2 separate regions of the Homo sapiens genome follow, and region 1 is linked to region 2. The links come from fine-mapping of genetic effects on gene expression. A gene starts in region 2. The other region holds a variant in brackets. All regions are shown on one strand. Distances are between the middles of the regions. Region 1 overlaps ARHGAP5 (Rho GTPase activating protein 5). Region 2 holds the start of ARHGAP5 (Rho GTPase activating protein 5).

Region 1 (5,233 bases), 55 kb after region 2:
CATTCCAGCCTGGGTAACAGAGTGAGACTCTGCCTCTGAAGTAAATACATATATATGTAATAAAATATATATGTAATAAAATATATATATATGACCACATATCTTAAGCAGCTTAAGTGATCATCTTATATTTCCAATTTACCTAGTAAATTTGTTTGTTGAATCCCTTGCATTCATAAGGGATTTTTTTTTTTTTTTTTTTTGAGATGGAGTCTCACTGTGTCCCCCAGGCTGGAGTGTAGTGGTGGGATCTCGGCTCACTGCAACCTCTACCGCCCAGGTTCAAGTGATTCTCCTGCCTCAGACTCCTGAGTAGCTGGGATTACAGGTGCCTGCTATCACACCAGGCTAATTTTTTGGGTTTTTTTTTTTTTTTAATAGAGAAGGGGTTTCATCATGTTGCCAGGCTGGTCTGGAACTCCTGACCTCCAGTCATCCTTCCACCTCGGCCTCCCAAGGTGCTGGGATTACAGGTGTGAACCACCATGCCCAACCTGGCATTGATTGATTGATTGATTGATTGATTGATTTTGAGATGGAGTCTCGCTTTGTCGCCCAGTCTGGAGTGCAGTGGCGCGATCTCAGCTCACTGCAACCTCCGCCTCCTGGGTTCAAACGATTCTCCTGCTTCAGCCTCCTGAGACTACAGGCACGTGCCACCACACCCCGCTGATTTTTGCATTTTTAGTAGAGATGGGATTTCACCATATTGGCCAGGCTGGTCTCAAACTCCTGGCCTTGTGATCCACCTGCCTCGGCCTCCCAAAGTGCTGGGATTACAGGCATGAGCCACCGCACCCAGCCTGTTTTCATTTTCTCACATTTTTCAAAATTTTGGGACCTTTAGAAATGTTACAAGAATAGTATGATTGAGCATTTGTTTACCCTTCTCTAGATTCACCGAGTAAACTTTTTACCACAGTTCTCCAGCTTTTTGGGAGGCTGGTGGGAGGTGCTGAACAATGTGAAATTCAGTTAAAAACGGCATGACACTTCACCTCCAAGTCATTTAGCATAGATTTCCCCACTAACAAGAACATTCTCTTCACATAACTGCAAAATAAATACATGTTTAGGAAATTTAATATTGATACAATTCTATTGTCTAATATAATGTCTGTAATCAAATTCTCCCAGTTGTCTCAACGGTGTCCTCTTAGAGCTTTTTTGTTGTATCAATCCAAGGTCCCAGCAAGAATCATGTATTACTTTTCTTGTCATACTTCTTTTTTTTTTTTTTTTTAGGTTTGTCTTTATTTTATTTTATTTTTGCATTTCTAAGATTTGTATTAATTGTGTTAATTTTGTTAAAATCAATTTATAATTGTATTAAAAGATACATAACGTAAAATGTGTCATGTTAACCATTTTGAAATATACATTTCAGTAGTAAATACATTCACATTGTTGTGCACCCAATCTCTAGAACTTTTGCATTTGGAAAAACTGAAACTGTATTTTTATGAAACGCCAACCCCCCCATTTCTCCCTTCCTCCAGCCACTGGCAACCACCATTTCATGTTCTTTTTGTTTGTTTGTTTTTGTTTTTGTTTTTTGTTTTTTGTTATTATTATACTTCAAGTTTTAGGGTACATGTGCACAACGTGCAGGTTTGTTACATATGTATACATGTGCCATGTTGGTGTGCTGCACCCATTAACTGGTCATTTAGCATCAGGTATATCTCCTAATGCTATCCCTCCCCACTCCCCCAACCCCACAACAGTCCCCGGTGTGTGATGTTCCCCTTCCTGTGTCCACGTGTTCTCATTATTCAGTTCCCACCTATGAGTGAGAACATGCGGTGTTTGGTTTTTTGTCCTTGCGATAGTTTGCTGAGAATGATGGTTTCCAGTTTCATTGATGTCCCTACAAAGGACATGAACTCATCATTTTTTATGGCTGCATAGTATTCCATGGTGTATATGTGCCACATTTTCTTAATCCAGTCTGTCCTTGTTGGACATTTAGGTTGGTTCCAAGTCTTTGCTATTGTGAATAGTGCCGCAATAAACATACAGGTGCATGTGTCTTTATAGCAGCATGATTTATAATCCTTTAGGTATATACCCAGTAATGAGATGGCTGGGTCAAATGGTATTTCTAGTTCTAGATCCCTGAGGAATCGCCACACTGACTTCCACAATGGTTGAACCAGTTTAGAGTCCCACCAACAGTGTAAAAGTGTTCCTATTTCTCCACATCCTCTCCAGCACCTGTTGTTTCCTGACTTTTTAATGATTGCCACTCTAACTGGTGTGAGATGGTATCTTATTGTGGTTTTGATTTGCATTTCTCTGATGGCCAGTGATAGTGAGCATTTTTACATGTGTTTTCTGGCTGCATAAATGTCTTCTTTTGAGCAGTGTCTGTCCATGTCCTTTGCCCACTTTTTGATGGGGTTGTTTGTTATTTTCTTGTAAATTTGTTTGAGTTCATTATAGATTTTGGATATTAGCCCTTTGTCAGATGAGTAGGTTGTGAAAATTTTCTCCCATTTTGTAGGTTGCCTGTTCACTCTGATGGTAGTTTCTTTTGCTGTGCAGAAACTCTTTAGTTTAATTAGATCCTATTTGTCAATTTTGTCTTTTGTTGCCATTGCTTTTGGTGTTTTAGACATGAAGTCCTTGTCCATGCCTATGTCCTGCATGGTAATGCCTAGGTTTTCTTCTAGGGTTTTTATGGTTTTAGGTCTAACATTTAAGTCTTTAATCCATCTTGAATTGATTTTTGTGTAAGGTGTAAGGAAGGGATCCAGTTTCAGCTTTGTACATATGGCTAGCCAGTTTTCCCAGCACCATTTATTAAATAGGGAATCCTTTCCCCATTGCTTGTTTTTGTCAGGTTTGTCAAAGATCAGATAGTTGTAGATATGTGGCATTATTTCTGAGGGCTCTGTTCTGTTCCATTGGTCTGTATGTCTGTTTTGGTACCAGTACCATGCTGTTTTGGTTACTGTAGCCTTGTAGCATAGTTTGAAGTCAGGTAGTGTGATGCCTCCAGCTTTGTTCTTTTGACTTAGGATTGACTTGGCGATGCAGGCTCTTTTTTGGTTCCATATGAACTTTAAAGTAGTTTTTTCCAATTCTGTGAAGAAAGTCATTGGTAGCTTGATGGGGGTGGCATTGAATCTATAAATTACCTTGGGCAATATG[G/A]CCATTTTCACGATATTGATTCTTCCTACCCATGAGCATGGAATGTTCTTCCATTTGTTTGTATCCTCTTTTATTTCCTTGAGCAGTGGTTTGTAGTTCTCCTTGAAGAGGTCCTTCACATCCCTTGTAAGTTGGATTCCTGGTATTTTATTCTCTTTGAAGCAATTGTGAATGGGAGTTCACTCATGATTTGGCTCTCTGTCTGTTATTGGTGCATAAGAATGCTTTTGATTTTTGCACATTGATTTTGTATCCTGAGACTTTGCTGAAGTTGCTTATCAGCTTGAGGAGATTTTGGGCTGAGACAATGGGGTTTTCTAGATATACAATCATGTCATCTGCAAACAGGGACAGTTTGACTTCCTCTTTTTCCTAATTGAATACCCTTTATTTCCTTCTCCTGCCTGATTGCCCTGGCCAGAACTTCCAACTCCGTGTTGAATAGGAGTGGTGAGAGAGGGCATCCCTGTCTTGTGCCCGTTTTCAAAGGGAATGCTTCCAGTTTTTGCCCATTCAGTATGATATTGGCTGTGGGTTTGTCATAGATAGGTCTTATTATTTTGAGATACATCCCATCAATACCTAATTTATTGAGAGTTTTTAGCATGAAGGGTTTTTGAATTTTGTCAAAGGCCTTTTCTGCATCTATTGAGATAATCATGTGGTTTTTGTCTTTGGTTCTGTTTATATGTTGGATTACATTTATTGATTTGCATGTATTGAACCAGCCTTGCATCCCAGGGATGTCCAATCAATAGAAAAAGAGGGAATCCTCCCTAACTCATTTTATGAGGCCAGCTTCATCCCGATACCAAAGCCTGGCAGAGACACAACTAAAAAAGGGAATTTTAGACCAATATCCTTGATGAACATCAATGCAAAAATCCTCAATAAAATACTGGCAAACCGAATCCAGCAGCACGTCAGAAAGCTTATCCACCATGATCAAGTGGGCTTGTCATACTTCTTTAGTCTTCTTTAATTTAGAATAGTTTTCTAATCTTGTGGGTATGTTTTCATGTCATGAATTTTTTCATGAAAAAATTCAAAGCCTTTTTTTGCAGAATATTCCTAAATTTTATTTGACTAGAAAGTAGTGACACATTTTAGTTCAATAAACTGAATTTATCATAATATATGTATCCCCCTCCCCACATGGAATTTTAAGAAACTCGTTTTTGATAAATTGAGAAAAGAAAATACTGCTTTTTGTCTTATTCCTGTAATGGCATTGTGCCTGAAATGTCAAGTATCACCGCAAAAAACTCTTGCTCTATTGATGTTACTTCATCCCTATCAGCTTTTTAGCATGTGAAAAATCTCACTTCACTTAGCTTAAGTGAAGCCCCATTAGTAATGCATCATTAAAAACAGCATGAACACATTTACTTCAGCTGTTGTTTTAAAACTCAAAATAGCCGGCCTATTGAACTATACAGTATCAGGGACAATATATTTTATGTCTTGTATCACACATACATACTCTAAACACAGCACAGAGTGGGCATTTAAGGAACATTAAATCTTGTTTGAAATAAAAATATCATCACAATGTCTCATCATAGTATGTCTTCATGTGTTTGTCTTTTGCTTATCCTAAGTGTATCTTTAAGTAGTTTGAGTAATTTATAGCCATTCCGTTTACTGTTGATGTCATTTATGCATGTCTGATTTATATTTGCTATTGGGCCTGAGCCATCACGTTTACAAGAATGACTCCCAGATCTTTATCTCTCACATTCCAGAGTGTTCTTATATTTCATTCTTATATTTAATTCTCCCAGTTGTCCAGGCCTCAGGTATCTCATTAATCTGTCTTTTTCACCCATTGTGCCCACATACCATTAATTGCCCATGCTTGTCCATTCCCAGCATTGTTTGTCTTAACATCTGTTTTACAGGGAAGACTCAGTATATAGCATTTATTTTGTTCCTTCCAATCCAGTTGTCTCATCACTCCCAAAGTTTTCCTATTAAAAAGTATTGAGTGCCTAGAAAGAAAAAATACCAAACTTTCATTGCCCAGGAATTGAGGCTTTTTTGGTTTAAATTATTTTAGTTGCTAGTCAGCAAACAC
Region 2 (5,233 bases):
TGTTTGGAAATCGTGATCTTTTTTTTTTTTTTAACGTCTTCTGGTGTCTTCATTATAAGAAAATAAATGAGATTTCAAGTCTTCCCTGCCTCCAGTATCATGTCCTATAACTGAACATTACACCTTTTTAACGTTTTCTTTAGAAGCCCTGATTTATTTGGCTTTGGTTTATGTTGATACATGTCCATGATTATTAAAATTTCTGATTATTTAGGACATAATTTTTAAGGTATCTTTAGGGTGTACACTCTATAGTACTTAACATCTTATTCAGGTTATGACTTTGAACTGCATCATTATAACACTAAAAAGCAACCTTGGCTAACTTCAGTACCTTACGTAACATAAGAAATAAAGAATAACTTGAACTTAAAATACTTTTTATATGTTTACTTCGGGTATTCTTAAGGGCTTTCAGTACAAAGATAAAAACATGCGTTGGAATGCATCAACATTCCAACTTACATAAGTGGTGTAGATACCTATGGCATTAGTACCACATTTTGATGGTTGGACCACCCACCAAATTCCCTTCTCTCCTTTTTTACTTCTTTTTCTTTCTGTTTGCTTTCCTTGCAAGTTTCCTTCCGCATCCTTCTTTCCCACCTACAATTTGTAACTGAAAGAAAGAAGTAGCTACAGACCTTACCTAACCTACTCTTAACCTACTTGGTAGGTAGGGTTCAGATGCAAGGGAGTGGCTCGAATAAAGCATTTTAGTTATGCCTTTTAGAAATTAGGGAGCAAGAGATATATAGAAAAATTAGAAATGTCTCTTCTACCTTTATTAAGTCTACCTTTGAGAAATATGAAGGGCAGGAAGACGGAAAAACGAACAGAACTTCTGCTGGAATATTGTGACAAATTTACTGACAAATATTTTCTAATAGATTTTTACCAACAGGCAGTTTTTGTTTTCTTTACTGACAGACCGTAAATGTACTTCTGGTTGGCAGCAGCTGCATCATTATAACACAAAAGCAACCTTGGCTAACTTCAGTACCTTATGTAACATAAGAAATAAAGAATAACTTGAATTTAAAATACTTTTTATATGTTTACTAACATTAAACTATTTTCAATGCAGGAAATAAATATTTCCCCAAAGAGGAATCCCCCCTCAATTACTTTCTTTCAGACTTAACAAATTGGAGTAGATGTGGTTTTGCTCATTCTTTTATCTGCTGGCAACTATTTTAAGTCTCCTGTGCAAGGCAGATTCCGATGACCTCGGGAAAGTCACAGGACCTCAGTTTCTTCAATGGTAAAAGCAAAGGCAGTGGTTTCTACCGTCCTTTCTCACTGCACCATTCAGCGTCAGTGCCCTCATGAGAAACACACCCAAAGCCCAGTGTGCTCTACCCCAAAACTTGTGAAATTTCTAGAGTCTCAAAAAAGTGAATATGTTTAAGGCAGTATAATAAAAGCCAGGTGGACGACAGTTCCTAAAGTTAGGCTGGTAGTGGCGTGAACAGGGGTCTTTTGGGCCACCCTGAGACCCGCCCCACGGGGCTTCTCGATCCACGTCTTGGCTTCTCGCTCCACTTTCACAGAACGTACTGAATCAGGGGCCTGCATCCCCGTGCCGTGCCGAGCCGACGGAGAAATGGACTCCTCTTCTCGCTCCTGTGGAGTTTCGTCTTCTGGGTGAGTGTGGCACCGGGTCCTGGGCGGGTGATGTCTGTAGTTGGCGAGCGATCCTCAGCCAGAAAACTGGCTGCGCACACAGGCGCAGACACGCGAACATGTTCCTGCGAACGAGCTTGGGCGCATGTTTTCCTCCCTTGCTTTCTTTAATGCTCAGAGACCATAAGGGGATTTATCGAGAAGCATTCGGTGCCCATGCCCGGTTTGGAACCGCGAGCACAATATCTGGTTCCTTTGCAGTACGGTGGTTTGCTCTTGAGTTACGACCAGAAACCGGAACAGAAGGAAAGGGAGAAGCAGGGGAGGTTCGGGGACGACGGCGCTCCGGGCAGTAAGGCAGTAGCTTCCAAAGCGTGGAGGATGGGACTGAGGAGGAGCAGAATACGGAGAAAGAGGGAAGCTGAGGAAAAATACTCACGCCAATGGGTAAAAGGGAAAAGGTGAGAAGGAATGGAGTAGGGGAGGGAACCAATGGTGGGAGAGGCGGAGGAAGAAGGGGGAGGGGTAGAAGCCAATGGGGGAGTGGAGGGGAGGGAGAAGCAGAGGGGAGGAGGGAGCGGGGACGCGAGCGAGGACGCGGCCCCGCGCGCTCGTCCCCCTCCCTCCGACTGGATAGCTCGCGCCTTCCCAGGCTCCCGGGAGACGAGGGCAGGGGCGGGGCCGTGCCGGGTGCGCGGCGCGGGAGGCGTCGCGAGGTGAAGGGGCGGGGACGGGGGATTGTGGGGAGGGCAGCGCGGGTTCGCGCGCGCGCGCGCGTCCCGTCCAGGCTGCGCCGCCGCGCCGCCGCTCCGCCCCCGGTCGGGTGTGTGGCTGCGCGCGCCGGGAGAGATGCTGAGGTAAAGTTCGGGAGAGAGGGAGAGAAATCCGTCAGCGCGAGGGAGCCCGAGTGGCCGCCATTACTGAGCCCGGCGCGGCGGCGGGCGCTGGGGAAGGGGGGAGGGACGGGCCGCCGCTGGTGGCGGGGAGGGAGGGAGGGAGGGTGGGTGAGCTGGCTGCGGGAGCCGTGGGGCTCAGGGTTTCGGGGCGTGTGTGTCGGGGAGGGCGGGGGGAGGTGGCTGAAGGGACGCGCCGCTCGGTGAGCGCGCCGAGGAAGAGAGGCGAGCGGAGAGTGGAGGAGGAGGCGGCGGCGGCGGGAGCGGTCCCCAGGAATGTCGCTGCCGCCGCCACCGCCGGGGCCGCTGCCGTTGAGGAGGAGACGGAGGAGACCGACGTTGTTAGGTAGGACCTTGCGGACCCCGCTCCTCCAAGCCTGCCTGCCCCCTCCCGGACGGGGACCCTCCTGCGGCTAGCTGCCCCGCTCGGTCGCCGCTGCCGGTTGTAACCAGTTGAAGGGGCTGGGGCCCCGCGGCCGCCGAGGGGAGCCTGGCGCTGCGCTCGGTTTTCGCAGGCCGGGCGGGCAGCAGCTGCAGCGTTAGGGATACGTTCGGCGTGAAGGGCAGAGAGGCCGGGGGAGGGGGTGCTTTCTCCACAGGTGACGGGGCCAGGGTCGGCGGAGGCCTGATGCTGGCCGGGGATCGCCGGCCCCGCCAGGCGTCCGCTCTCGCCCGCCGCCTCACTTGCTCGAGTCTCGGGTGGTCCGTCGAGAGGGGAGGTGGCGGTGTCCGTTGGCCGGGTTGCTGCTGTTAACGAGTTCCACCTGGAAAGGGTACACGGGGCGGGTGCAGATTCGCGGAAACACAGTCTCGGTTGCAAACTTAAACGCCTTGTAGGGGGGATCGGCCCTTTCACTTTCCCTCATCTCCTCGACTCCTCCCTGGGTTCTCTTCACCAATTTTCCATCTGCTTTGAAGCTTGGAGTAAGATATGAGAAGTTGCACTGCGCATCCAGAGCCCAGAGTCCTATGGGCTGACTGCGACTGGGTTGAGGCTTTGATACTGAGTTTTCGCTAGAATAACCTCCAGATTCTTCCTCTCTTTCCACTAAAGAAAAGTATCGGGGTGGGGGTGGGGAGCCGCGCGGGAGCGCGCGCGCACTTATCCACACAGAAATACTCCCTCTCACCCTCCCTCTTCAGCGTTATTAGAAATGCAAGAGAGCTGGAGGCTCGGGGTGTAGCTGAGGTTGAAAGGTGCACGGAAGTAAGGGCAAACTGTTATTAGGCCGTTTAGTAAAATCCCGAAAAAGTTGTAGGGGAGACGCTTATACTTCTACCATGTGATAGAAATTCGGATTTGGCCATCGCTTAATAAATGGGAATTCAAATATTTTGAGATAGAGCAAGATAGGCATATAGATGGGTTTGTGCTTACGTTTTAAGTTTAAATTCTTATCGATCATTTATTTTTTCCTTTGTGATAGGCAGGAAACTGAATTTTTTTTTAAATGTTCAGGTGTAAAACAGCAAAATGCTTCGCTGTATTTACTAGTACTTGCTTATGTTGCTTTCTACAGGTAGGGGCGGGGGGCGAGTTTGTCAATTCCACTTAAATCCAGAACCAGTATTCAGTTAGAATGTTAGGTGGTGTTTATCCGCATGAAGGATCTCGTTCACTTCATGGGAGCTTGCTCTACATTTCCACTTAAAATGGTTCTCCTAACAAAAATTTCATCTAGATGCAGCGATTAGACATTTGGAATAATGTTTGGTTTAAAAATACGTTAATGAAACCTTTTGCTGTCAATTCTAGTTTATTTGTACTGTAATACGATAAAACGGTATTCTTATTCAGTGTTTGTAGATAAGTATTACTAACCGTCTAGGTAACCTACTAGATAGTTTCTTGAGTAAGATTTTGCTTTCATTTTAAATTCCTTTCTCATTTTTTGCTTTCATCTATCCTTTGTATACTAATTGACCTCCATTACCTTTATCTGTAGTACAAAGAGCGGTAAGTATGTGTCACCAAAAACTTGCAAAGACACTGGAGCAATTTATGACTAAACGCACTGGAGTGAAAGGCTGCGCATACCTATGCTTGTAACTTTCAAGAAATAGCACTATTGATCTAATTGACTTAAAGCAGAATCAGACGGTACAGATGATTAAATAACTATTGATTTGGTTGTCTTGTGTAGGCTGTGTTTTTAAACCTAGATCAACATGTCTTATTTTGCCATTCTTTGTACATTAATTATTAAGAGTACTGGGGAGTGAGGTGGGTTACACTTTGATGTAAGAATTGCGGCAGAATTCTGTTATCTTTATGAGTTTTGTAGTGTCCCTCCCCATTTAAACGACCTTAGCAATTTTTAAAATGTGTTGCAAAATTATTACCTTAATTCTGTCACAAGATACTTATCCTAAATGTTTTGAAAACCGTCTCCCCTTCTTATTTGTGTTTGAAAAGCATATTAGCACAGTCATTTTTTTGGAGAGTTATTTTGACCTTGAAAGTTAAGATTATTTAAGGAATGAATATTGTATTTGCATTCCTTTTTTGGATTTGAAGTAGCGATAATAAGTTTTCTAACTCACTTTTTTTAATTGAAGAAAAAGTTAGGTCTCATAAAGACTTTACTAAACTTTACCAACATTGGCAGGATGTAAGATGAGTGTTGGCCTTTAGTGGTCACTTCTTAAATATGAAATGGCATAATAGAGATTTTCTTGGTAGCTACAGAATAAGTTTTGTCGCAACTGTAGTT

Evidence for each region. PIP is the estimated chance that this variant, and not a neighbour inherited with it, causes the effect.
Region 1: its variant is the best candidate, but not a certain one, in a credible set for the expression of ARHGAP5 in whole blood (INTERVAL, PIP 0.50).

The regions. Positions count from the first base shown.
Region 1 is chr14:32,130,027-32,135,259 of GRCh38, forward strand. All of the region lies in intron 3 of ARHGAP5 (Rho GTPase activating protein 5), which reads left to right. Among named protein-coding and RNA genes, the nearest start is that of ARHGAP5, 55 kb to the left of the region's middle. The variant G/A (reference allele first, on the strand shown) is at 3,157.
Region 2 is chr14:32,074,571-32,079,803 of GRCh38, forward strand. ARHGAP5 (Rho GTPase activating protein 5) reads left to right here and starts at 2,734. Exons shown (of 7, transcript NM_001030055.2): 1 at 2,734-2,865. It overlaps ARHGAP5-AS1 (ARHGAP5 antisense RNA 1 (head to head)), which reads right to left and starts at 2,129. Exons shown (of 1, transcript NR_027263.1): 1 at 849-2,129. RefSeq lists silencers at 2,155-2,414, 2,775-2,994, 2,793-3,087.